Linked DNA regions of Homo sapiens. The protein of the gene in region 6 interacts with the protein of the main gene of each other region in a biochemical or structural test. Each region holds a gene or a part of one and is shown on either strand. Other genes may lie near its edges. The genes, in order: PTPN3, PDZK1, SNTG1, RGS3, TJP1, PBK and APBA1.

Region 1 (3,500 bases), on a different chromosome or scaffold from region 6:
TGCCCCCTCCCCGCATCATATAGGAACTAGGGCTTCACAGGTGTACCTGGCCTGTGGCCCAGAGTTGGCGCTCAGGGAATATTTACAAATGCTGCAAAAGACCCACCGGTACAGGGTGTGGTAGGCAGCATTTCCTGGAGCTACAGGACTTGACAGCATTTTTTTCTTTTCCAGAGCCAGTACAAGTTTGTGTGTGAAGCGATTCTTCGTGTGTATGAAGAAGGTTTAGTCCAAATGCTGGATCCTAGTTAAGACAACTGTGAAAAAGTTCATTCCTCTTTCCCAAGGGCATCCTCCTTGAAAGAGGAGGACAGACCTCTCTGGAAGCAGCAAGAGGAACCAGTAGCTGTGGGAAAGGAATGGGCACCTCTGAACCCAGGCACTTTAAACTTCTATAGAAAAGATATCGTGTACATAGGAACTGGTGTAGATAAGCATGCAATTATGGCATCATTTAGGCCTGTATTTCTATGGAAAGATACAAAAAGGATCTCAGTTTGGGGCCTGTCCTAATGCCTTCTTCCCTAACATCACCACACACACCCCTGTCGGCATCCTGGAGCAATTGAGACCGGACACCCACAGAGCTGTTGTCCTCCCAGCAACAAGATGGTGTGGTTATCTTGGGTCATTTGGATGTTTTGTTTGTTTCTGTGTGTCAGACTGTAAGGGCTGAGCTTTCTGTGCTTCTAGGTGGAGCTGGAACAATTCAGATTCACCCGCCCTGATGCTAAGGAAACCCTGACGTATGTACTAGATGGCAGGGCACTGGGGGTCAGGCTGAAGGCTGAGCAACACCTCTCTGCCCTCCCTCCCTTTGTCCCATCTCCCAGCGACTTCCAATATTCATGTTTCTGAGAATTGTGTCCCTCTTCAGGTTCCCTCTTGGTGCCTAACCTGGATTAGTAATGTGCATTCAGGTGAATTTTCAGCTGAGGCTCTGAGAACTGGTACTCTCAGTGTGTTCTGGTCATCTTGTGGCTTAGTTGTAGAAGCAGGTGTGTCTCTTGCCTCTGCTTGCCTCCTACTGCACACTCAGCACCCAGGACTGGAATCACCGACTACTGAATCTCCTACATGTATTGCTGCTACTTCAAGCTCCTCCACTTGAAACCTTATGATTTTCCCAAGGGGAGATGGGACAGTGTCATCTAAATATTCCGAATGTTTGGCCTTCTGAGAAAAGAGCTTCTAGTAATTGAACCATGGGAAACCCAGCTTCTGGAGGGTTGGCCGTGGGGCTGTGTACATGTGTGTGCCCAGGGGTGAGTGTTTCTCAGGATTCCTAACGATTCAAATTACCGTTGAGTATATATAAAGAATGAGTCTCTGTATGGAAGAACAAATGTGTGCATTCACCCCCAGTCACAATGGTCTCCATTGCATTTCAAAGGAGAGGATCAGACTATCTGAATATAAACACAATCTGATGTTAATTTATTCTAAGAACACCATCATTTTGATTGTCCTAAAGAATTCTGCCTTTGTGAATACCGTGTTAAATTTTTTTAAATTTGTGACAGGATTGTAGCAAATTATTATTTAAGGAAAATAAATTGTGTAAACATTTAATGTGGTATTTTTGAACAGCGGTTTTTATGTACTCAGAAGAGGAAGTAAAGCCAGGTTCTTAATGGTATTTATAGAAAAGATGTTTTCATATTATAATGCACATAAATGAAGCCATTTTGATATTCAGCAAATTCGGTGCCAATTGAATAGTTTGCTGGTAGCAAGACGGATGAAGACCTATATGGGAGATTCTTTATCTCTAGAGCTAGCATATTTACTTGCATACTTTGTTTCTTTTCCACATGGATATTTTACTGCTAAATGGCAGAGGTGGGAGGGAGATGTCACACAGTACCATAACCCCATATTGAAAACAAGAAACCACCAGAAAGTTTGCAGCTAAGGGGCAGGGGATTCAGTTCCTACGCCCACTCAGCACTAACTACTTGCGGGCCTGGTTGCTTAGAAGCTCTACCTCTCTTTCATTATCTGTAAAATAGAAACAATACTTAGGACTTTAGTTGGAACATGAGGATTGAATAAGATCACGCTATTCATGTGACTTTTTATCGGCTAGAACAGCAACAGACACTGCTGTGGGTGAGTTACTTAGAAAAGTTTAGTTATCAGTGATTAGCCCAAAAACACATCAGTCAAAAATAGAATCCACTGGATTTTTGTCTCTCTTTTTAGAGACAGGGTCTCACTGTCGCCCAGGCTGGAGTACAGTGGCATGATCATTGTTCACTGCAGCCTCAAATTCCTGGGCTCAAGCAATCCTCGCACCTCAGCCTCCTGAGTAGCCGGGACTATAGGCACATGCCACCTCACCTGGCTTGTGTGTGTGTGTGTGTGTGTGTGTGTGTGTGTGTGTGTGTGTGTGTGTGTGTGTGTGTGTGTAGAGACAGGATCTTGATGTGTTGCCTAGGCTGGTCTCAAACTCCTGGCCTCAAGTGATCTTCCCACCTCAGCCTCCAAAACTGTTGGGATTATAGGCGTGAGCCACTGTGCCCAGCCTAACTGGGTTTTTATGAGAGGAAAATAGAAAATGCTCTTCTAGAAGAGAGAGAACAAGAGCACAAAATAATCTGGACTCACAAAAATTCAGCAAGCTCCAAGAAAGGGGGATGGAGGGAACGCTGGCAAAAATTTAAATGCCATTAGGATATTTAGCAAGTTATTACTGTTTGGTAAAAATGCATCATCACCCTGTGTGCAAAATGCTTGCAAAGTAGTCTAAATGTCTTTGGAGATGGGTGTTTTACTGCTTTTTTCCAAAAACAAATTGTTTATTATGGTTGCAGAAATGCAGCCATTACGGTCACATAAATTTCTAAAAAGCCTACCAAAGGTTGCAAGCAGTCTTCTGCCACTGGGCAGGCCAGCAGTTCAGACCCAGCGAGGTTGCCAGGAACAAATCCAGGAAATACTGGGAAGAACAAGACAAGAGAATTACCTAAAAGAGCAAACAATTCAAGTAAATCCTGTAGCTATTACCACTTAAAATCCGTAGCTCAAGATTCCTGTTTCACCACCTTATACACTTAAGCAATTATACTTAAGCCTTTTTTTAGTCCTAAGTGAAGAACTACATCAGAATCAGGATAAGTATTTTGCCTGGGAAATTTGGCTGCATATGAATGGAGAAGACATTTACATCCTATGTTCTGGCACTTTCTGAAAGATCTAATTAAACATGTTGATGTGCCAATTTAATCAAGATGAGAGATCCCTGCTGGTGTCACCCTCTAGAACCTGCACTTGGTGTTTTGACTTTCCAGAAGAAAAAAATGCAACTTTGGTTAGGGGGCAGTGGTTGGATCACACAGTTGTCTTTCGTTTCCTACCACAGTAATTCATATTTAAATATGCTTTTAGATTAGTGTGGATACTATTGCTGCTGTGTTGCTACCTGACCTTTTTCTGGGGGGGGTACCTCAGAAATGAGCATTTGAGGGCAAGCGAAAAAGCCCTCTTCATCCTCCAGA
Region 2 (3,500 bases), on a different chromosome or scaffold from region 6:
CCAACCTACCTTTCCAACGAATTCTTGTACTACACATCATGTGCCAATTAAACTGTGCCAGTGTCTCCTGACTGTGTTCACATGATTCCCACCTTCCTGGAATGATCTTCCTTATCCCAGCTCTGTCTACTTTCCCAAATCTATTCATGTTACAAAGCCTGAACTCAAGTGCCACCCCTACTATGAGGGCTTCTGGTACCTTTTTAGTGAGAAAAGCTTACTCTAACGTTGAATTATCACAGTGCTTGATCTGCCCCTGTATGAAGGTACTTAACCTCTATCTCCCTTCATTATGGACATATCTCTTATCTACTAAATGGTAGACTCCTTCACTAAAGAATTCCTGTCTGCTTCATATGATATTCTTTCTCCAAGGCACTGAGGATGTTTTTACAAAACACAAACCAAATTAATATTTGATAAATTAATGTAAACAGAGAGTGAAAAGAAAATAACAACTTATGGGCGAATAGCAGTTTATACGGCCCGAACTCATGTTCTTTTATGTATTTACCTTCCCTGAAAGAACCTAGTGTTCTTCCTATTGAGTTGCAAGGAAGGAGGACTCCTGGTTCTGAGTCCCAAATCCTCACCCACACCTCGGCCTCAGGTCCAGCGGTGTGCTATACTGGCTCACACCGGCTCACAAAAGCCAATTCTGTGCAACACTTCATTGTGTTCAGTGACATCGTGTTAGTAAGTTGAAACTGGACATGGGAGGAGTATTTACATCACAAAATACTACCAATTTGGTACCAAAAACAAACGCTACCAATTTGGATTTCCCCCCACCCCCGCCCCAGAGAGCTAACTTACCAGGATACCGTTGCCCAGATCCCAAATTCTGCCTTATCATAATGCTATGGAAACTTTTGATGCCCAACATCAGACCCTCATGTGACATAGACGCTGACCCAGCTGTGCCTTCTATGCTATGCCGCTCATGCATCTGGCTGGGAGTTGGGAACCTAATGGAACTCTGGAGTCAGAATGGGATGAGGAATTTGCTGGTTACTGCCAAGTTTCCTGCTCTTGTACCTTACCTTTCTGTTCTGAGCCTGCCCTCAGATAGAAACCATAGCCATTGCTTCCTTTCTTCATCTCCACAATTCGGGGCTGGTGGGGTAACAGTTTCAAACTGGCTGTTTCTCTTTTGAATTGTATCTTCTGCTCAACATGACGCTTGTCAGTTTCTTTGTCCACCAGCAGGAACATGACACGGCTTCCTGACTTCTTCACCTGTAACAACACACACAGATGAGGAATGACATCAACCCCCAAGAACAATGCTGGGGAATAAGAAAGTTTCTGTATAAAGGCACACAGTCTCTAGGTTCAACAAAAGATAGGGGATGAAAGGCCTGAGTTTAAGCTGTTACACTATGCCCTACCAGCTAACTGATATGTATTTATCGCCTTTTTTTTTTTTTTTGAGATGGAGTGTCACTCTTTCGCCCAGGCTGGAGTGCAGTGGCACTATCTCAGCTCACTGCAAGCTCTGCCTCCCGGGTTCACGCCATTCTCCTGCCTCAGCCTCCCGAGTACCTGGGACTACAGGTGCCCGCCACCGCACCTGGCTAAATTTTTTTTTTTTTATTTTTAGTGGAGACGGTGTTTCACCTTGTTAGCCAGGATGGTCTCGATCTCCTGACCTCGTGATCCACCCGCCTCGGCCTCCCAAAGTGCTGGGATTACAGGCGTGAGCCACCGCGCCCGGCCCCTATCTCCACTTCTATAGTTGTTTTCCCTTATTTAAGTATGACCTACCCACATAGGTGCTAACTGAGCCCAAGTAGGAGCTGGAATTCAGAAAACCCATAAAGGTACCTAGATAAAAGCTAGAAAGGGAGTTTGGAAAAGAAAAGAAAGTAAGGGTCCACGTCAAAAAATCATTCTACAAAGAGAAGGTTGGTCAATTTTTAAGGTTCCATATGACCTCAAAGGAAAATCTCGGTTATCTCCCACTTCCTATTAAAGCATTTCAGTATTAACGGCTCAACAGTGAACTTATTGTAAATTCAGAGGGCGCAGTGGCACACGCCCATAATCCCAGCACTTTGGGAGGCCAAGGCGGGCAGATCACTTGAGCTCAGGAGTTCAAGACCAGCCTGGCCAACATAGTGAGACCCTATCTCTACAAAACACACACACACACACACACACACACACACACACACACACACATAAAAATTAGCCAGGTGCGGTGGTGCACACCTGTAGTCCCAGCTACTCAGGAAGCTGAGGTAGAAGAATCATCTGAGCCCAGGAGGCCGAGACTGCAATGAGCCGAGATTGTGCCACTACACTCCAGCCTGGGTAACAGAGTGAGACCCTGTCTCAATCAAACAGTTCAGAGGGGGCTCCCAATCAGATACAAACAAGATCCAAAAGGTAAAGTTAATAATTTTGTAGACCTCATGTGAAACTAGGGAAGGCTTTATTCCAAAACCCTATATTAACACTGCTTATACCACTAGTGTGAGTCTGTTCACCCTTAATATGAAGGGGCAACTCAACTGGATATTTTTTCCATCATAAACTCATGCTGTCCCCTACCACCCCTGTCTTCCTGTCACCTCCAATGAGAATAGAGTGGAAGATAGGGTAAGAAAAGTACCCTTTGGGGCATACCTTTTCAACCACTTCCTCATGGCTGGCATCCTCTACATTCTCTCCATTCACTTCAATCAAGTGATCATCAGCCAGAACTCCAGCTCTCATAGCCACACCTTGAGGTGTAATATCAGTCATGTACACCCCCTTTTTACCTGGAAGAGAGTAGGGGTAAACTCCATGTGGAGACACAAGTGACTCCCTCTTGGATGGTAATCTGTGATGTTGACTTCTGATTAGCCCCAGTCCTGTGATTGCCTCCCGATTTCTACTTCATTTACTGTCCCTAGTCTAAGAACATGTCAACCTTAATGTTATCACGCAAATTATAGGCTATGATGCACTATAGCATTCTTGGCTATTGCGGAGGGCTGCCTTCGATTGTCTTGCTGGAGCACATATACCCTTTCCCTATGGTATATCAGCCTTGGGTCTGGGGAGTAACACAGAGATCTACATGTTTTGTGGCTGTCCAAGACCATGCTTCTGTTCGTAAGTTCCCCTGATAAATTCCAATGTACCAACAAACTGGATTTGCCTGCCTTGTCCTTTGGTTTCTCAGCTCCTTTGGCCTTTGAGGGACTGCTTTGCATACACCACCCTTTCACAGAACACTCCATTGCAAAGAAAAACTCGAAATCCAATGGTAAAGACTTTTCTCCCAATAATGTGAAACAAACTTCCGATTTTAGAGCTAACTCGGCCTTTGGCTTCTGATCTAAAATCACAGTTATAGGTCCTGGCACTGAACTTGACACAGCCTTTACTCAGTGGGTATTTGTTGATTTGAATAGAATTTCTGAGGTCAGCTAAATGCAAAGATGGAATCTTGGGTGGCCTTGGCCCCTTGAACCAGAAAGCGCTAAAACATGCCCACACTGCATTAT
Region 3 (3,500 bases), about 23 Mb from region 6:
GGGCATTTATCATTCTCCCCTATCAGGCACAGAGGAGAAGTGGTGTGCCGCCCTAGTGGTATTGCCATAAGATGTCTATCTGATTTGCTTTCTTTACTCACTTCAACATTCTGTATTAAAGCACATTCCCAATTAATAAAATGTCAGTAATTGGTAAACAAGTGCGATGCATCAATGAATTCTATTATAAATAAGTATTTTTTTCTGTAAGAATTGATAGAGTGGGAAATATAATCCATGGCAGGTTGGATGGCATAAACACTTGATAAATGCTGGTAGAAACGTATAAGAAATTCTTATGAGAGGTTTACATTCATTTACTGAAGCCAAATCTGGTTTAATGTACTTTTTTGCATCAATCAATTTGATAATTTTATGTGAGTTTTTAATACTACATGAAAAATACCTAAAATATTTTTAATATTTGCATCTAAATATTTTTAGATATAAGATATCTAAAATAAGAAGTTTTGACAGTTGATTGTATTCCATTTTCTTGCAGATTGTCTACATGGGCTGGTGTGAAGCCCGGGAGCAAGACCCCCTCCAGGACAGAGTGTACTCCCCGACCTTCCTGGCCCTGAGGGGCTCATGTCTCTACAAGTTTCTGGCACCTCCAGTACGTGTTTTATTGAAATGTATTGGTCGTTTCCATATTATCACAAGAGATTGACACCAACTTAACAGCACCAAATAGTATACCATCAATATTTTTAAAAAATAATATAGAGAAAAAGTAGAAATCAGTTTATCTGATTTAACTTACTAAAATATATATTCTGACATTAAACATTTGCTTTAACACCCTTGAAAAGTCTGGAACTTACTTCTTTATAAATAGTGAACCTATAAAATAATGGATCAAATTATAATGCCATTACAAATCTCATGACGACATGGGAAAGGAGATTTTAAGAAACATTTTCAAGCATATGTCAGTGTATTTTGTTTATGGAATAAAAATTAAAGAAATGAATATATCAAAAGTGAAATAAAAAAGAATAAACTGTTTTAGGGCTATACATGAATGAACATGTTTACTAAACTCTTATTTTCCAAGGATCTTTTGAAAGTTCTTTTAAATTTATTCAGCACTTTTAATTACTAGTAATTTATTATTAGCAAAGAATAATAAGGAAATTTCAAAATGATAGCATCTTATCTAGCTACTATTAAGTCTATCTCACCCTATGGTAATCCCATAGGATGATGTTAACTCTCATGGTGTTCAACATTTAAATTAGAGGATTCTATCCTTGGCAAACAACACAAATACATTCTGGTAAGCTATCATTTATGACAAGTCGAACTTGCTTATTTATGTTGTACAGGTCTCTCTATATAAAATCAATAACATTTTCATCTTCTATTATATTCTATATCCTAGTTATTGAGATTTGTACTAGATATGTATAGATACCTATTGCACCTCAAGTCTTGCTTTTGGAAACATGTACCTTGCAGCTCAGAAGACACTTAATAAATATTTATTGAATATAAATACCAAATGCCAGACCAGTCACTTGCAGGTCTAATAATACATAAGATTTAGAAATCATCAGGTCTAACTTGCTGCTGTTTTAAATGTCTGTCTCTACACAAAGTTTAAAGCACTAGGAAGACAGAGGAAAAATTGATATTTATATATTTTACTCTATTCCTACTCTGAATAATTTATTTGACAAGACAGTTAAATATAGTTTCCAACCTAAGTAAGTGAAATAACTGCATTATGCTTTGGGTATGTTTGCAATGTCACAGTCATCTTGGAATTTCTTAATATAAATGATGTATATTTAAAAAATATAGCTGTGTTGAGGTCTGGTATTCTCTGTATTTAACTAGTGGTAAATTAAAAAAAAAATATGAGTGTGGAATGTAAATACTTAGTATTTATAGGTAGAGAATGCGTATATTATTTAAGATATATAAGGACACTGGGCAAATGAGAACTGTTGCACATAATATAAATCATTTGCTGAAAGCATAAGACAAATGGTAACAAAGCTTGGAAAAGAGGAAACAAAAGCATTATGTAGGGTCCTTTATGAGCATGGCTTCACAGATGAGAGACTAGATACATCTGTGAAAGTTTTTTCTTATTTTTCACTATATTATGCAAATCAAATACAGTGGTAAATAACTTTCTAAAACAAATTAAACATTATTTTCTTATCTTTTAAAGGTGACCACCTGGGACTGGACGAGAGCAGAGAAAACATTCTCAGTTTATGAGATTATGTGCAAGATCCTCAAGGTATGATCAATATGTAGTCAGTATTTGAATGGCTTTTCCTCAGCAAATAGTGCCTCTGGGCTCATAAGCAGCTCATGAAAACAAATCATTCATGGAATGAAAGAAGAGACACGATAAAGACAAATGAAAGAGAAAGAAAATAAACTGGACAAAAAAGAGAAAATATAGAATGCACAGAAGTGCACTGGCACTCAGCTATCTGCTTAAATAACTTGCAAGCAGACTCTGCAGTCCCACCGTGGGTGAGGGAACAGGGAGAAGCTCCTCAGGAGTTCACTGGGGAAGAAGAAAATTCAGTTGAAAGTAGTCTGAATTTAAACGTTGGTTGTTACCATGTTTTTTTTTTTAATTCTTTTTTTCTGAATAAAATGCAAAAGAGAAAGATTTGGGTGAGACCTGGAATTAGAAAATATAGAAAATATCAGGAAAAATGCAAAGAAAAGTTTTGCTGTTTTGTTCTTAATCTCATGGCTTGACCATCTTTTTGCATATGTAAAAGAACATTCGATTGTCATATATCAGTTGAATTTCATGCCATATGCAGGATTATTACAATATCAAGCCATCACAAATTCTATAAAATGTCACATGGTTTCTATAGCGTTTTTTAAAGAATTAAAATTGGAATAACCTATAAAACATGAAGACTAATATATATTCACTTTCTACTTTAGGGTTTGTAGGCTTGGACTCACCACAGATTGATAATTAAATTCCTGCATAAGGTTGACCTTGTTTCTGTATCCAAGGGGAGCTAATTTCCCTTTGCTTTATGTTAGCTATTTCTCTTCCCGTTAAAGACTTAGCAGAGTAGAAAAATGCTGAAACATTTAAAATATAATAAAATGCATCAAAAGTGTCTGAAGGCAGAGAGACAAAAATTATAATTACCTCAAAATTGTTTATAGTTTCTGTTCCTTATAGAGAACTTTGGATTAAAGCTGAAGTTCTCTGAAGTGCAAAATCCAGCCAAAAGTATAGTTCATTGATTGCTCATCACTGTGCATGCTTTGAGTTCTTCTGTAGGCGTAATGGTGGAAGGACAACCTGAAATACTTGAGTGTATTGTTAGTAAAGAAGGGTCTGACAATTTCTTAAACAGAGGCTAGTATCTGAGGAAAAGGAGATCATACACGACTCCAGTTTTCTGAAATAATTGCCAAAATGGCTAATGAGATAGCTTTCTTTTTTTTGGAGATGGAGTCTTGCTCTGTTGCTTAGGCTGGAGTGCAGTGGTGTGATC
Region 4 (3,500 bases), on a different chromosome or scaffold from region 6:
TGGGTGCAGTGTTCTTTGTGTATGTCAAGTTTAGGTCAAGTTTGCTCTTTATATTGTTCAAATATTCCGTATCCTTGTTGATTTTTCCTGTTTTCTCTGTCAGTTCCTAAGAGAGGTGTATTAGAATTCCCACTGTGATTGTAAATTTGTCTATTTCCCATTGCAGTTCTGTCAGTTTTTCCTTTACATATGTTGAAGCTATGTTAACAACATACAGATTTAGAATTATTATCTTTCTGGTGAGCTGAAATTTTTATTATGAAATCTATTATTGTTATGAAGTCTTCTTTATTTCTAGTAGGTATAAAGTCTAATTTTCCTGATATTAACATAGCTAACCATGCTTCTTTCATTTAATATTTGCCTGACATATCTTTTTCCATCCTTTTTCTTTCAACCTTTTTGGATCTACATTGTAGGTGTGCTGTGTCTGCTGCAAAGAACAGGCACATGGCTGGGAGTGGTGAGTGGCCCATGCTTATAATCCCAGCACTTTGGGAGGCCAAGGCAGGAGGATCACTCAAGCCCAGAAGTTCGAGACCAGTGTGGGCAACATAGTGAGAGCTCATCTCTACAAAAAATAAAAAAATTAGCTGGGCATGATGGTGTGCACCTGTGGTCCTAGCTACTTGGGAGGCTGAGGAAGGAGGATCACTTGAGCCTAGGAGGTCAAGACTACAGTGAGCTGTGATTGTGATACTGTACCCTAGCCTGGGTGTCAGAGTGAGACCCTGACTCAAAACAAACAAACAACAAACAAACAGTATAGGCAGAGAGTTGTTGTTATTATTATTATTTTCTTCTCAATGCAGACCTAGGATGATATTTTCCTTCAAAAAATCTTTGTTCGTTTGTCAGGTGCCTAGGGTCACTGGGTTAGTCTTAATTCAGTGTTGGGACTGAGAGTACTTGAAATCGAGCTGTAGTCCCTGGAGTAGCTGTGTCTGATTACAGTTCACTCTATTCCTATGGAGCAACCCTTCAGGGTCCCTATGCAAAAGGTGGGGCTCAGAAGAACCCTGCTTCTTGGTGGGCCCTGGTCCCTAGTTCCTATTCCTCTAGCCCTGAGAAGCAGGCAGAAACTCACTCAGTCTCTTGATCTCTCAATCAGCCCTCTGGAATTTGAAAACACCCCAGGAGGAAATTAGCCCAGAAAAACACTAGGTTTCCTTCTACAGTCCTCCATTCCCCTAGATCCTGCCTGGTAGCTCCTCTCTCTCTTGTTGTTTATCTAAGAAGATGCTTTAACATATTTTGTTTAGCATTTCTAGTTTTCCTCAGTGGATCTGTCATCCCAGAAATGGAAGTCCCCTACATATATTTTCTAAGCTTTTTTGAGTTGGTTTTTGTTTTTTTTTCCCTCCCTTTCTGCCTCTCTCCCTCCTTTTCTCCTCCCTCCCTGCCTCTTCCGTCCCTTCCTCCCCTCCCCGCTCTCTCTCTCCGTCCCTCCTTTCTTTCTCCCTGCCTGCCTGCCTACCTGCAGTTGTCCGAGCAGGCATTACTGGGGCTGGAGGGTCCCTTTCCAAGATGGCTCATTCACATGGCTCTCAGCAGGAGGCCTCAGTTCCTTGCTACCTGTAATTAGGAGGCTTCTGTTTCTCATCGCATGGACCTCTTCGTAGGATTGCTTGAGCTTCCTTATTATGTGGCAGCTGGCTTCCTTCTAGGCAAGTGATACAAAAATGAAAGCAAGAAAGAACTCCCATAAAAAGATGAGTAACCCAGCTCAAAAATGGGTAAAGGATTTGAATAGACATTTTTTTCCAAAGAAAAATGGCTAACAGCATGTGAAAAAATGCTCAATGTCATTAGTTATCAGGGAAATGCAAATCAAAACCACAATGAGATACTATCATACTAGAATGACTATAATAAAAAAAGAGCCAATAACAGGCGTTGAAGAAGTTGAGGGGAAATTGGAACCCTTGTACACTGCCGGCCGGAATGTCAAATGGTGCAACCACTTTGGAAAAGTTTGGCGGTTCCTCAAACAATTAAATGTAGAGTTTCCATTTGACCCAGCAATTCCACTCTTAGGTATAAATCCAAGAGGAATGAAAACACATGCTCACACAAACATGTGTACACACACACATGTTCATAACGGCATTATTCATAGTAGCCAAAAAGTCGAAATAACCTGAAATATCCATCACCAGATGAGTGGATAAACAAAATGTGGTATATCCATACAATGGAATATTATTTGGCCACAAAGGGACTAAAATACTGATACGTGCTACAATATGGGTGAACCTTGAAAACATTATGCTAAGTGAAAGAAGTCAATCACAAAAGACCATGCGTTGTGTGATTCTGTTTACATAAGTATCCAGAATAGGCAAGTCCTTAGAGACAGAAAGCAGATTAGTGGTTGACAAGGGCTGAGGGGAGAAGGGAATAGGGTGTGACTGCGAAAGAGTATGGGATTTCTTTTAGGGGAGGATGAAAATGTTCTAAAATTAGATAGAGGTGATTGATTACAGAATCCTGTGAATATACTAAAAGAAAATTACATGCTTTAAATTGGTGAAGTGTGGCCGTGCACGGTGGCTCAATCCCAGCACTTTGGGAGGCTGAGGCGGGTGGATCATCTAAGGTCAGGAGTTCGAGAGCAGCCTGGCCAACATGGTGAAACTCTGTCTCTACAAAAAATACAAAAAATTGGCCAGGTGTGGGTGGTGCATGCCTGTAATCCCAGCTACTCAGGAGGCTGAGACAGGAGAATAATTTGAACCTGGGAGGCAGAGGTTACAGTGAGCTGAGATCATGTCATTGCACTCCAGCCTGGGCGACAGAGTGAGACTCCATCTCAATAATAAACAAAACTGATGAAATGTATGATATGTTAATTATATCCCAATACAGCTGTTAAAAAAAGAAGGAACTAATAATACCTTTAATATCCTAATGTTGAAAGTCATCCACTGTCATTTCTACCACATTCTATTTGTTAGAAGCAAGTCACTAAGTCCAGCCCATGTCTGAAGGGAGGAACTAGGCTTCACCTCTTGAAAGGAAGAGTATCAAAGACTTTGTGGACAAATTTTAAACCCATGATAGGTATAGAGAGGCTAACAGTGGGGGCCCTGGACTGCCTAAATGCAAACCCCAGCTCTGCCACTTACTGGCTGTGTGATTTGGACAACCTGTTTTAGCTATTTTCTTTTTTTTGAGTTGGGGTCTCACTCTGTTGCCCAGGCTGGAGTGCAGTGGTGTGATCATGGCTCACTACAGCCTCAACCTCCTGGGCTCCAGTGATCCTCCCACCTCAGCCTCCTGAGTAGCTGGGACTACAGGTACACACCACCACGTCCGGCTAATTTTAAAAAAACGTTTTTGGAGAGACAGAGTCTTGCTATGTTGCCTAGACTGGTCTCAAACTCCTGGCCTCAAGTGATCATCCTGCCTCAGCCTCCCAAAGTGTTGGGATTACAGGTGTGAGCCACCATGCCCAGCCAACCTGTTTACCTCTTAATAATCTTCAGCTTCCTTGCCTG
Region 5 (3,500 bases), on a different chromosome or scaffold from region 6:
CATCCACAGATGGTCAGGGGCGGACAGAGCTGGCCTCTGCTCTGCAGCTCAGGCTGCGCTCTGCTCCCTTGATGTTGTGTCGTAGGATGTCGTCCCTGGCACTCCGGTCATGCTGGAGTGAAACGGCAGCTACCTTCATGTAATTCTGTTTCGTTGGTCTTTCTGCTCACCTTTGAGCCCTGGCTCAAAACTGTACTTTCAGGAAGTTGATAGCCTCTACTTTTGAAGCAGTCATTGATACCACATCCCCTTTGCCTTTGGCGTTCTGTGATTACTAAGTTAATCTACTGTCTCTCTTTCGTGGATGTTTGGGATATGCCCATACAAGGGTCTTCGCCTCATGGAACCTTGGAAGCCTTGCCTCCTACAGCCAGAGCGGGCGCTTGGTCCTCAGGGAATGCTGAGGCAGGACCATACTCAGGCACACTTAAAATCCTAGGGAGATTTTATCAAGTCTGAGATGCTGTCAGCCGTGAGATGCACCATTGTTTTGTGTCACTAAAAATGGAAGAACAGCCAGGCACGGTGGCTCATGCCTCTAATCCCAGCACTTTCGGAGGTTGAGGCGGGCGGATCACTGGAAGTCAGGAGTTCCATCCTGGCCAACACGGTGAAAACCCATGTCTACTAAAAATACAAAAATTAGCCGGGCATGGTGGCAGACGCCTGTAATCCTAGCTACTCAGAAGCTGAGGCAGGAAAATTGCTTGAACCTGGGAGGTGGAGGTTGCAGTGAGCCAAGATTGCACCGCTGTACTCTAGCCTGGGTGACAGCAAGACACTCCATTTCAAAAAACAACAGGAAGGGAAGAACAGGGCTACCAATTAAATTGTGACTTACCAGTTTTAAAGTTCCAATTTCATGGATTTTAAAATGTGCTTCATAAAACTCTGTACCTGTTTAGTATCCCTTGTCCAAACTTCTTGGGTTCTGAAGTGTCTCATATCTTGGGTTTTTTTGGATTTTGGAATATTGCCAAAATGCTCCAATGAGCATTTCCTTTGAGCTTCATTTTGACACTCAAAAAAAAGTTTCCGATTTTGGAGCATTTCAGATTTTCAGGTTAGGGATGCTTCACCTGTAGTTGGGTGTTCAAGGCATCAGATTTTACACTTTCAGGTTGCAATTCATTAATGAAGGTCGTTTGACTAATTGCCTTCAAAAATTGAATTTTTGACATTTCTCTAGAATTTTTGAAATTTTCTAGAATGGAATTTCTCTAGAAATAATATTCTCGCCAGGCGCGGTGGCTCACGCCTGTAACCTCAGCACTTTGGGAGACCAAGGCAGGTGGATCACGACGAGATCAGGAGTTTGAGACCAGCCCGGCCAATATGGTGAAACCCCATCTCTACTAAAAATACAAAAATTAGCCAGGCTTGGTGGCGTGCGCCTGTAGTCCCAGCTACATGGGAGGCTGAGGCAGAAAAATCACTTGAACCTGGGAGATGGAGGTTGCAGTGAACCAAGATTGTGCCACTGCACTCCAGCCTGGGCGACAGAGTGAGACTCTGTCTCAAAACCAAACAAACAAACAAAAAAGAAATAATATTCTCTGCGATAACCCTGTCAGTAAAATCTGTTGCCAGAAACTTATCTTGTTAAAGTAACTTCTTGATTATATGGAGAAATAAAAGTGAAAGCACGTAATACAGTAGTAGTAAAAGCAAAGCACCTGTGTATTATTAGGAATTCACTCACTAGCCATTTCTGAACTTTCAGTCCTTCAGCTGTGGAAGAGGATGAAGATGAAGATGGTCATACTGTGGTGGCCACAGCCCGAGGCATATTTAACAGCAATGGGGGCGTGCTGAGTTCCATAGAAACTGGTGTTAGTATAATTATCCCTCAAGGAGCCATTCCCGAAGGAGTTGAGCAGGAAATCTATTTCAAGGTCTGCCGGGACAACAGCATCCTTCCACCTTTAGATAAAGAGAAAGGTAAATGTGTTTATTTTTCTCCTTAGTTTTGATAACTTAAGAGTTGCCCTGTGTGCACTTCAGAGCTTATAGTGCTTGGCTAATAATGCAGCACCTCTCTATCTCCAGATGAGTGCTGTAGCGAGGGGTGCCCTGGGGACGGTGTTGCAAGCAAGCAGTGGGTGGCCTGAAGCAAGGCTGTGGTGACCACACTGCCTGCTTTTACTTTTGGTGTGAAATAAAAAATGATGGCATAGGACAGGCCACGGGATGTCTCACCTGCTGAGCAGCCTAGGCTGACCTAACCAAATTTGTCTTTGAATCAGTCAGCCTTTGCGTCTCTGGAGATGGGTTAGGTAACACCCACTCAGAAAGGCTTTGCTGTGCCTTCACCTGATTGGAGAACCTAAACCTCTTGACAGGTACTGTCTTATTCATCACCCCAGAACCTAGCACTAGTACATGCTCAGCAGAGTGCATGAAGGAGTCTCAGAGGAGATGACAGCATGTTTCTGAGCTTCTTAAGGAAACTTATTTTCATAATCCTCCTGGATCTACCAGGATATTATAACGAAGTGTGTTGTGATTTAGCATCTTTTAGCAGTGCTTTTACTTCCTAAACAAATTTAGTTCGCTTTTTTGTATTTTGCCGGAATACTGACATCTGATTCTGTACTCTGATTTTGGGGATATCCTGTTTTAAAAACCAGTAGGACTGACTGTGTTGGCCCTGCATGAATCTCTTTAACCACCTATGGAGCAAACAAAACATTTTGAAAATGGAAAATATATCACATTCGCAACAAGCACATTTGAATATGTTTTTTATTATAGACCCATATGATTGAATGCAGTAGCCACTGCCTGCACGTGGCTAGCTAGCACTTGAAGTGTGACAATTTGGGATTGAAAGATGCTGGAAATGTGAAATACACACCAAGTTCCAAAGATTTCATATATTGATTACATGTTGAAATAACAGTGTTTTCGTTATATTGAGTTAAAATATTAAAATATTGTAAGATTTGATATCACTTGTTTCTTTTTACTTTCTAACGTGGCTACTGGGAAATTTAAGATTCCATATGTGGCTGCTGTTACGTTTTTTTGTGGTCAGTGCGACTGTAGAGAACTAACTCCATTAGGCTTTCAAGCATATAATTAGAAGCAGGGTGAGGAAAACTGGGATTCTAGAAGAAAGACCACATCCATCCTCTCTGCCTATCCCCTTTTCCAACTCCAGGTGAAACACTGCTGAGTCCTTTGGTGATGTGTGGTCCCCATGGCCTCAAGTTCCTGAAGCCTGTGGAGCTGCGCTTACCACACTGTGCGTCCATGACTCCTGACGGTTGGTCTTTTGCTCTAAAATCATCCGACTCCTCGTCGGGTATGCTGTCTTCACTCTGTCCTTTGGGAGCTTTGGGGACTGTCGTTGATTAATACCTGGGCTGATGATGCTGCCCATGCTGTGTGTTAGCAAATCTCTATCTCTGTTCCTGTGGCCTTGTAGGCATCACCAGTGTTTTCACATTTATTTGTGGTGCATATATTGTAAATAAATATGGAAAGGTAGAAGACTT
Region 6 (3,500 bases):
TTCAAGCGATTCTTCTGCCTCAGCCTCCTGAGTAGCTGGAATGACAGGTACACGCCACCACACCTGGCTAATTTTTTTGTATTTTTAGTAGAGACGAGGTTTCGCCATGTTGGCCAGGCTGGTCTTGAACTCCTGATGTCAACTGATCCGCCTGCCTTGGCCTCCCAAAGTGCTGAGATTACAGGCGTGAGCCACCATACCCGGCCTCATTTTATTTTCATAGACAATTTTTATAACCATTTATTGAGATAATTAATGTATCATAAAAATCCACCTTTTGAAAGTGTAAAATTCAATAGTTTCTAGTATACTCAGAGATGAATATATTAAACCATTATCTGGTTTTAGAACCTTTTCTTCACCCCAGAAAGAAATCCCATACCCACTGGCAGTCATTCTGCATTCTTTGTCTCCCAGTCCTTAGTAACTATTCAGCTATTTTTGTCTCCATGATTTGCCTATTCTGGACATTTCCTAAAAATGGGATCATTGGACGGGCACGGTGGCTTATGCCTGTAATCCCAGCACTTTGGGAGGCCCAGGCGGGCATTATCACAAGGTCGGGAGTTCGTGACCAGCCTGGCCAATATGGTGAAACACCGTCTCTACCAAAAATATAAAAATTAGCCAGGTGTGGTGGTGGGCGCTGGTAGTCCCAGCTACTCAGGAGGCTAAGGCAGGAGAATTGCTTGAACCTGGGAGGCAGAGGTTGCAGTGAGTCGAGATCATGCCACTGCACTCCAGCCTGGGCGACAGAGTGAGACTCCATCTAAAAAAAAAAAAAAAAAAGGATCATCATATATGTAGCCTTTATGTGTCTGGCTTCTTTCATTTAGTATAATGTTTTCAAGGTTCATTCTTGTATATATCAGCACTTTATTCCTTTTTATGACTGAATAATATTCCATTGTATAGATATGCCACATTTTGTTTATCCATTCATCATCTGATGCAGAGTTCTGTTGTTTCTGCCTTTTGGCTGTTATGAATAATGCTGCTTGAACAGTTTCCTTAAAGGATATAAGAGAGCTGTTAACAACTGCTCCTGGGAAGTATAACAGGGAGACATACTGTTTACTTTTTTGTACTAGGTGATTTTTTTTTTAGCTAAGTGCATATATTACTTTATAATGAAAACAAAAATACCCAATCACTAATATTATGATGGGGGTAAGTAATTGTACTTTTTGGTTTTAGTTTCCTCATTTTAAGTAAAATTGGGCTAAATGTTTGTTGAGGTCCTTTTTAGCTCTCAAATTTTGTTTGTGATAACGTGAACGATAATGTTATAGGCTTTTTTTTTTTTTTGAGACGGAGTTTTGCTCTTGTTGCCCAGGCTGGAGTGCAATGGCACGATCTCGGCTCACCGCAACCTCTGCCTCCCAGGTTCAAGCGATTCTCCTGCCTCAGCCTCCCAAGCAGCTGGGATTACACGCATGCGCCACCACGCCTGGCTGATTTTGTATTTTTAGTAGAGACGGGGTTTCTCCATATTGGTCGGGCTGGTCTCGAACTCCCGACCTCAGGTGATCCACCGACCTCAGGTGATCCACCCACCTCAGCCTCCCAAAGTGCTGGGATTACAGGCATGATCCACTGCGCCTGGCTATTGGCATTTTTCTTCATGAATGAGAGTTGTATTCTTTATATCTGCTGTGTAACTTGCAATTTGTTTTCATCGTAGGACTGAGAGTGGCTTTCACAATGGAAGGGATCAGTAATTTCAAGACACCAAGCAAATTATCAGAAAAAAAGAAATCTGGTAAGATAGCAGATGTAAGATTTTTTTTTTTACTATTGTTGTTTCTCTTAGAAATGTCCTAGTATTATTTAGTTTGATCCTTTATTATCGGTCACTTAGAAACTTTAATGTAACTCCCCTTTATGATGTTAATCTTAACAAATAAGACTTATTTTATAGGCCACGGTTTGATCATCTCTGGACTAATTTTATTGACAATCTAACAGGTTTGGAGGCTCTCCCTGCCCAAGAATCAACTTAGCTTGACCCATTAAGGAACTGCTTTACCTTTCTCCCTCTCATCCATACATTGCTCTTGTGAGGGAAAGATATTTTCCAAGGCAACTCAATGGACAAAGGAAAATCTTTTCAACAAACACCTAGATATCCACGTGCAAAAAATAAGCCTTGACCCTTAACTCCTATTATATAAAAAATAGCTACAATTAAATTTCTAGAAAATAACATGAGAAAATATTCTGTTGTCCATTTCTAGTGACAGATTTTTCATATTGACCTTGTATCCTGCAACCGTCCTAAACTCACTTATTCTATTAGCTTTTTAATAGATTGCTTGGGATGTTGTATATGGTTGGTCATTTGTGGATGAAGAAAGACAGTTTTACTTTGTTCCCCAGTCTGTATGGCTTTGTTTCTTTTACTTTTTTTAATTGCACTGGCTCCAGTATGTTTTTGAATAGAAATGTTAGTGGATATACTTGCCTTGTTCCCAATGTATTATGTTAGATGTAGGTTTTTCACAAATACCCTTTATTAGTTTGAGGAATTTTTCTTCTATTTCTAGTTATTATCGTGAGTGGGTATTGAACTTTGTAGAGAGCTTTTTCTGAATCTATTAAATTTTCTTTTAAAATCTCTCAATGTGGTAAATTATGTTAATTTTCAAGTGTTAAACTGAACTTCCTTGTGTAAAGCCAGTTTGGTCATGATATATTTTATATATTGCTTGATTTGCTGATATTGTCTATATTCATGAGGGATATTGGACTGCAGTTGTCTTTTTGGGATATCTGTCTAGTTTTAATATTAGGTTATTCTGTATTCATAAAGATGAGAAATGTTTCTCTTTTTTTAATAGAAATATCTTTTTCTTTAACTTTGTGTAGAATTGGTATTATTCCTCCTTAAATTGGTGGAATTCACTAGTAAAGCTATCTGGGCCTGGAGTTTTCTTAGTAGGAAGAGTTTAACTGTGATTTCACAGTTAATAGATATAGGGCTATTCAAGTGATCTCTTATTTTCTTTGTGAATTTTGTTAGTGTTTTTTAAGGAATTTGTCCATCACTTCTAAATTTTCAAATGTACTGGTGTGAAGTTATTCTTGATACACCCTTATTAACCTTCTAGTGTCCTTTTTCATATCTGGTACTAGTATTGTATATTTTCTTAATTTTTTTCCTTAATCAGTCTGACTTGAGGTTTATGTATGTTGGTGAATGTTGCATGCACTTGAAAAGGGCATTTTTTTCTACTCTTACTGGGTACGGTGTTCTACAAATGTCAATGTTCTACAAATGTCAATGATATTCTGTATACTTTTTATATTAATTATGAGAGAAGAGAGTTGAAGTTTCCAACTACAATGTGGATTTGTCTGCTTCCCCCCACCCCCAATTTCTATCAGTTGTTGCTTCATGTATTTTGAAGCTTTGTTATTAGGTACATACACATTTAGGATGGTTATTTCTTTTCTTTTTCTTGTTTTTTTGAGTTTCCTTTTGTCACCCGTAATGGAGT
Region 7 (3,500 bases), on a different chromosome or scaffold from region 6:
ACTACAAGCATGCGCCACCATGCCCGGCTAATTCTTGTATTTTTAGTAGAGACAGCATTTCGCCATGTTGGCCAGGCTGCTCTCGAACTCCTGACCTCAAGTGATCTGCCTGCCTCAGCCTCCCAAAGTGCTGGGATTACAGGCATGATTGTTTTCTAACTTAAATACATTTGATTGAGGATATTCATCTTTATATAAACCCAGTACTGATTCATAGGTCAGCCCAAATACAGTAGATGGTAATACAGCCTTATGGGCAAACAATTGAAAATGAAAGGCAAAGCATTTTATTGTGAATTCCCTAAGTGACTGCTCCAGGTAAACCAAGGAAACCAATAAGGTTTCCCTGCTGTCCCTTGAGGATGCCAAACATGTTCTTATCCAGCCTTTTCATTTTTGATATCCTCTCTGCCTAGAAGACCCTTCCCCCAAATATCTGCAGGGCTCACTACTTCACATCTTTCAGCTCTTTCTGCTTAAGGTCTTCCCTGACCATACTATATAAACTAATGTCACCCCCCACCCACCCACTATCATCAGTCCATTGCTCTCTCTCTTTTATTCTTCGTCATAGCACTTACCACCTGGCATATTATGTAATTACTTATTTATTTATTTTTAATCTCCTTCCACTAAAAGTTCTGTGATATTAAGGACATGCCTCCCCCCACCCCATATTCCTTGCACCTAGAATAGTTTCTGGCCCAGAGAAAGTGTTCAATGAGTGTATGTTGAAGGAATGAATAAATTTCATCATTAAAACCTCAAAATCACCACTCATTACAGTTGAAGTTCCATAAACTCACCTGGAATCATGACATAATCCCATAACTCAAGGATCTAAAGGGTTCACAATCATTTTGTGAAAAATGTGGGGTTTTTAAAAATAAAGCTTCAATGTATATATCAGGTATGAATAAATAGTTTTAATGCTATCATAAACTTGCACAGGCCATAAAAGGCAACTCATTCGATGTCCATTGTGTAAGAATGAAATCCTGAAATTTAAAATTTTAGATACTGTTGCTAGCTTACTTAAAAAAAGTTTATTCATGTATTCATGTGACAAATGTATATTGAATGCATATGATGGGTATGGTATTGGGCGAGGTGCTATATTTGATTTTTCTTTTGAAAACTGACTTTACATGTACGTCACTGTAAAACCATATTCTACCATTACAGATAGAAAAAGCTCATCCTTTAAAAAAACACTTACATTTTTCCCCATTGTTTTACTATAAACTTCTTAAAATTTAGCTCAGATCTCTGAGAGAGAATATTTACAGGAAATACAAGTGGAGTCTTTTATTTGGATAATTTTAAAGGTAAACATTCTCCTCTTTTTACTGCATTTAAGGGAATGAAGAACCACTGTATTTAGTGAGATTAAATGCTCACTATACAAAAATTACTTAAGTAGTTGTCAAACTCCAATTATATAGCGTTAATTGGTTTCACTACAAATTCCTGCTTTTCAAACACATGAGGTCCTCATGGTTGGGTAATGATCTTTTATTCACTCCTAATTGACTCACTGCTCTGTTTCCACAATGCCCACAAGTCTTTGTCATTCTACTCCTGGCTTCAACCTGCCCACCTCTCTTTGACCTCACTTAAAAGACTGTGGCCAAATTCCTTTCTTTCCACCTCAAAATTCCTATGCTTCTGTCTCAAAAGAATCCTTCCTTTGCTTTCATCTAGTATCCTCCCATCTTCTTGAAGACTTAATTCCCTCAATTGAGCCTCTCCCTTACATTTTCAATCTCTTTTTCCCTCAATGGATTGTTCTCCTCAGCTTATAAAGCAGGCTCAAGTCTTCCTATACTAAAAATACCACTTTCCCTCTACTACACCATTGTTGTGATATATCATACTCTCTCTCCTTCTCTTTTATCTCCCAACTTATTGAAAATGAAGTCTGTTTTCACTGCTTTCCATTTCCCTTCCCCCACGCCTCCCTTCAACCCTTGCCCCTGGCTGCCACTTCCACCTACCACAAAGACAATCAAGGAAATCCAAGAGTCAAATCCAATGGCTTTGCCTTGGTTGCACCGTCACCCATGGGGTGTGCTGTGTGAGTGACAGGGGCTCTCCTCACCCCTTCCAGCTTCCATGACACTGTACCACTTCACTTCCATCATTTTTCTCCAATTGCCCCTTGTTTAACGTGGTTCCTGTCCTCTTCTTTCTCTTTCCCCTCCAACATACAGACATCCCTCAAGGATCCTATCCTTACTTTTGCTTCTTCTTTCTTCATTTTCTTTATCAGTGATTCCTGGGATATGAAAATCGCTCCTAAGCAGATGACCTACAAATCTCCTGGTAGCTCTAACCTCCCTCTGTATTCTAGTCCCTTAACTTGGACAAGCCTGTCATGCTCAAAAAGAAACTTCTCTCCTCTTCCTTATCCTCTGTTATATCTTCTTTCTGAAAATGACCCAACTGCTCTCTCAGCTAAGCCTGACAATGATCTTTTGGCCTCCCTTTTCCCTTCCTCACTTTCCAGTGACTGTTCAAGCTCCTCAGATAATTCCCGCACACCACCTCTTAGGTGTGTTCCCTTCTTGCCTCCCACTGCCTCTTTCCATCTTTCCCCTACTTTGACAATAGAGTCTATCTGGTCTCCCTCCTGCCAGCCTTTTCCCATGTCATTCCATCCAACATAATACTACAAAAGTATTGCCCCAAAGCACAGTTCTGATACTGTCAATCTTTCTCCTCACAAATCTTCTATAGTTCCCCAGTCCTTACTGAACAAAATCCACACTCCTTAGCTTGGCGTACAAGTTGCTCCACCACCTTGAACAAACCTCTCTTTCTTGCTTTATCCCTCATTACATCTCTTGGCATTCCTAGCGCTTCAGCCAAAGCACACCATTTTTTTGTTTCCTGTGTAGGCATACACCTTCCACTGCCAGGCCTGTGCTACACTGTTCCTCCCCCAAGCATGCCCTTCCTTCTCTGCCAACCCAAATGCCACCTTAATCACAGCTCAAATGCTATATCCCATGTAACCTTCCCTAATTCTTCCATCAGAAGTCACTTTGTACCCTGTGAACTCCCACAGCTCTGCAGGAATACTGCTTTTTCAGCACTTAATCATTTTTCACTATTTTTACAGTTAGTAACATATTTCCTCTTTTCTCCTTCTAGATCATGATCCACCTCTGGCCAGGATCTAAGACTTAGCATTCTTTGAACCTCCAACCCTTCTCAACATTCCCTGTCCCCTATCCAAAGGTACAGTGGATCTGAGATGCGGGAGGCAATTAACAAATGTTTGCAAATTAATTATTGTAACCCAGAGAGTTAACTTCAGATTTTACGGCTTGAAATTCTCTCAATTTTAGCAACAATTACTTCTTCTTTCTAGGATAAAAGTCCTATCTCCCCAAGGTACTACAGTTAATTCCTTTTGGCCCCAGAGGTCAATTTTCAAATATCTCTTACCCCTAAGTCTTCCGAAACAAACAAACACAATAACAACAAAACAAAAC

The links.
Region 1: the proteins of PBK (region 6) and PTPN3 interact in a test that uses a peptide from one of them, tested with the Homo sapiens proteins (one large-scale study listed by IntAct).
Region 2: the proteins of PBK (region 6) and PDZK1 interact in a test that uses a peptide from one of them, tested with the Homo sapiens proteins (one large-scale study listed by IntAct).
Region 3: the proteins of PBK (region 6) and SNTG1 interact in a test that uses a peptide from one of them, tested with the Homo sapiens proteins (one large-scale study listed by IntAct).
Region 4: the proteins of PBK (region 6) and RGS3 interact in a test that uses a peptide from one of them, tested with the Homo sapiens proteins (one large-scale study listed by IntAct).
Region 5: the proteins of PBK (region 6) and TJP1 interact in a test that uses a peptide from one of them, tested with the Homo sapiens proteins (one large-scale study listed by IntAct).
Region 7: the proteins of PBK (region 6) and APBA1 interact in a test that uses a peptide from one of them, tested with the Homo sapiens proteins (one large-scale study listed by IntAct).

Annotation. Positions count from the first base shown.
Region 1 is NC_000009.12:109,376,308-109,379,807, reverse strand, and holds part of PTPN3 (tyrosine-protein phosphatase non-receptor type 3), read left to right. Parts: intron 1-174; coding exon 175-252; 3' UTR 253-3,500.
Region 2 is NC_000001.11:145,679,869-145,683,368, forward strand, and holds part of PDZK1 (Na(+)/H(+) exchange regulatory cofactor NHE-RF3), read right to left. Parts: intron 2,769-3,500; coding exon 2,632-2,768; intron 1,240-2,631; coding exon 1,044-1,239; intron 1-1,043. UniProt on the Homo sapiens protein: A scaffold protein that connects plasma membrane proteins and regulatory components, regulating their surface expression in epithelial cells apical domains.
Region 3 is NC_000008.11:50,656,407-50,659,906, forward strand, and holds part of SNTG1 (gamma-1-syntrophin), read left to right. Parts: intron 1-502; coding exon 503-619; intron 620-2,185; coding exon 2,186-2,257; intron 2,258-3,500. UniProt on the Homo sapiens protein: Adapter protein that binds to and probably organizes the subcellular localization of a variety of proteins. May link various receptors to the actin cytoskeleton and the dystrophin glycoprotein complex.
Region 4 is NC_000009.12:113,470,227-113,473,726, forward strand, and holds part of RGS3 (regulator of G-protein signaling 3), read left to right. Parts: intron 1-3,500. UniProt on the Homo sapiens protein: Down-regulates signaling from heterotrimeric G-proteins by increasing the GTPase activity of the alpha subunits, thereby driving them into their inactive GDP-bound form.
Region 5 is NC_000015.10:29,703,969-29,707,468, reverse strand, and holds part of TJP1 (tight junction protein 1), read left to right. Parts: intron 1-1,723; coding exon 1,724-1,941; intron 1,942-3,163; coding exon 3,164-3,307; intron 3,308-3,500. UniProt on the Homo sapiens protein: TJP1, TJP2, and TJP3 are closely related scaffolding proteins that link tight junction (TJ) transmembrane proteins such as claudins, junctional adhesion molecules, and occludin to the actin cytoskeleton.
Region 6 is NC_000008.11:27,831,318-27,834,817, reverse strand, and holds part of PBK (lymphokine-activated killer T-cell-originated protein kinase), read left to right. Parts: intron 1-1,684; 5' UTR 1,685-1,704; coding exon 1,705-1,762; intron 1,763-3,500. UniProt on the Homo sapiens protein: Phosphorylates MAP kinase p38. Seems to be active only in mitosis. May also play a role in the activation of lymphoid cells.
Region 7 is NC_000009.12:69,665,872-69,669,371, forward strand, and holds part of APBA1 (amyloid-beta A4 precursor protein-binding family A member 1), read right to left. Parts: intron 1-3,500. UniProt on the Homo sapiens protein: Putative function in synaptic vesicle exocytosis by binding to Munc18-1, an essential component of the synaptic vesicle exocytotic machinery. May modulate processing of the amyloid-beta precursor protein (APP) and hence formation of APP-beta.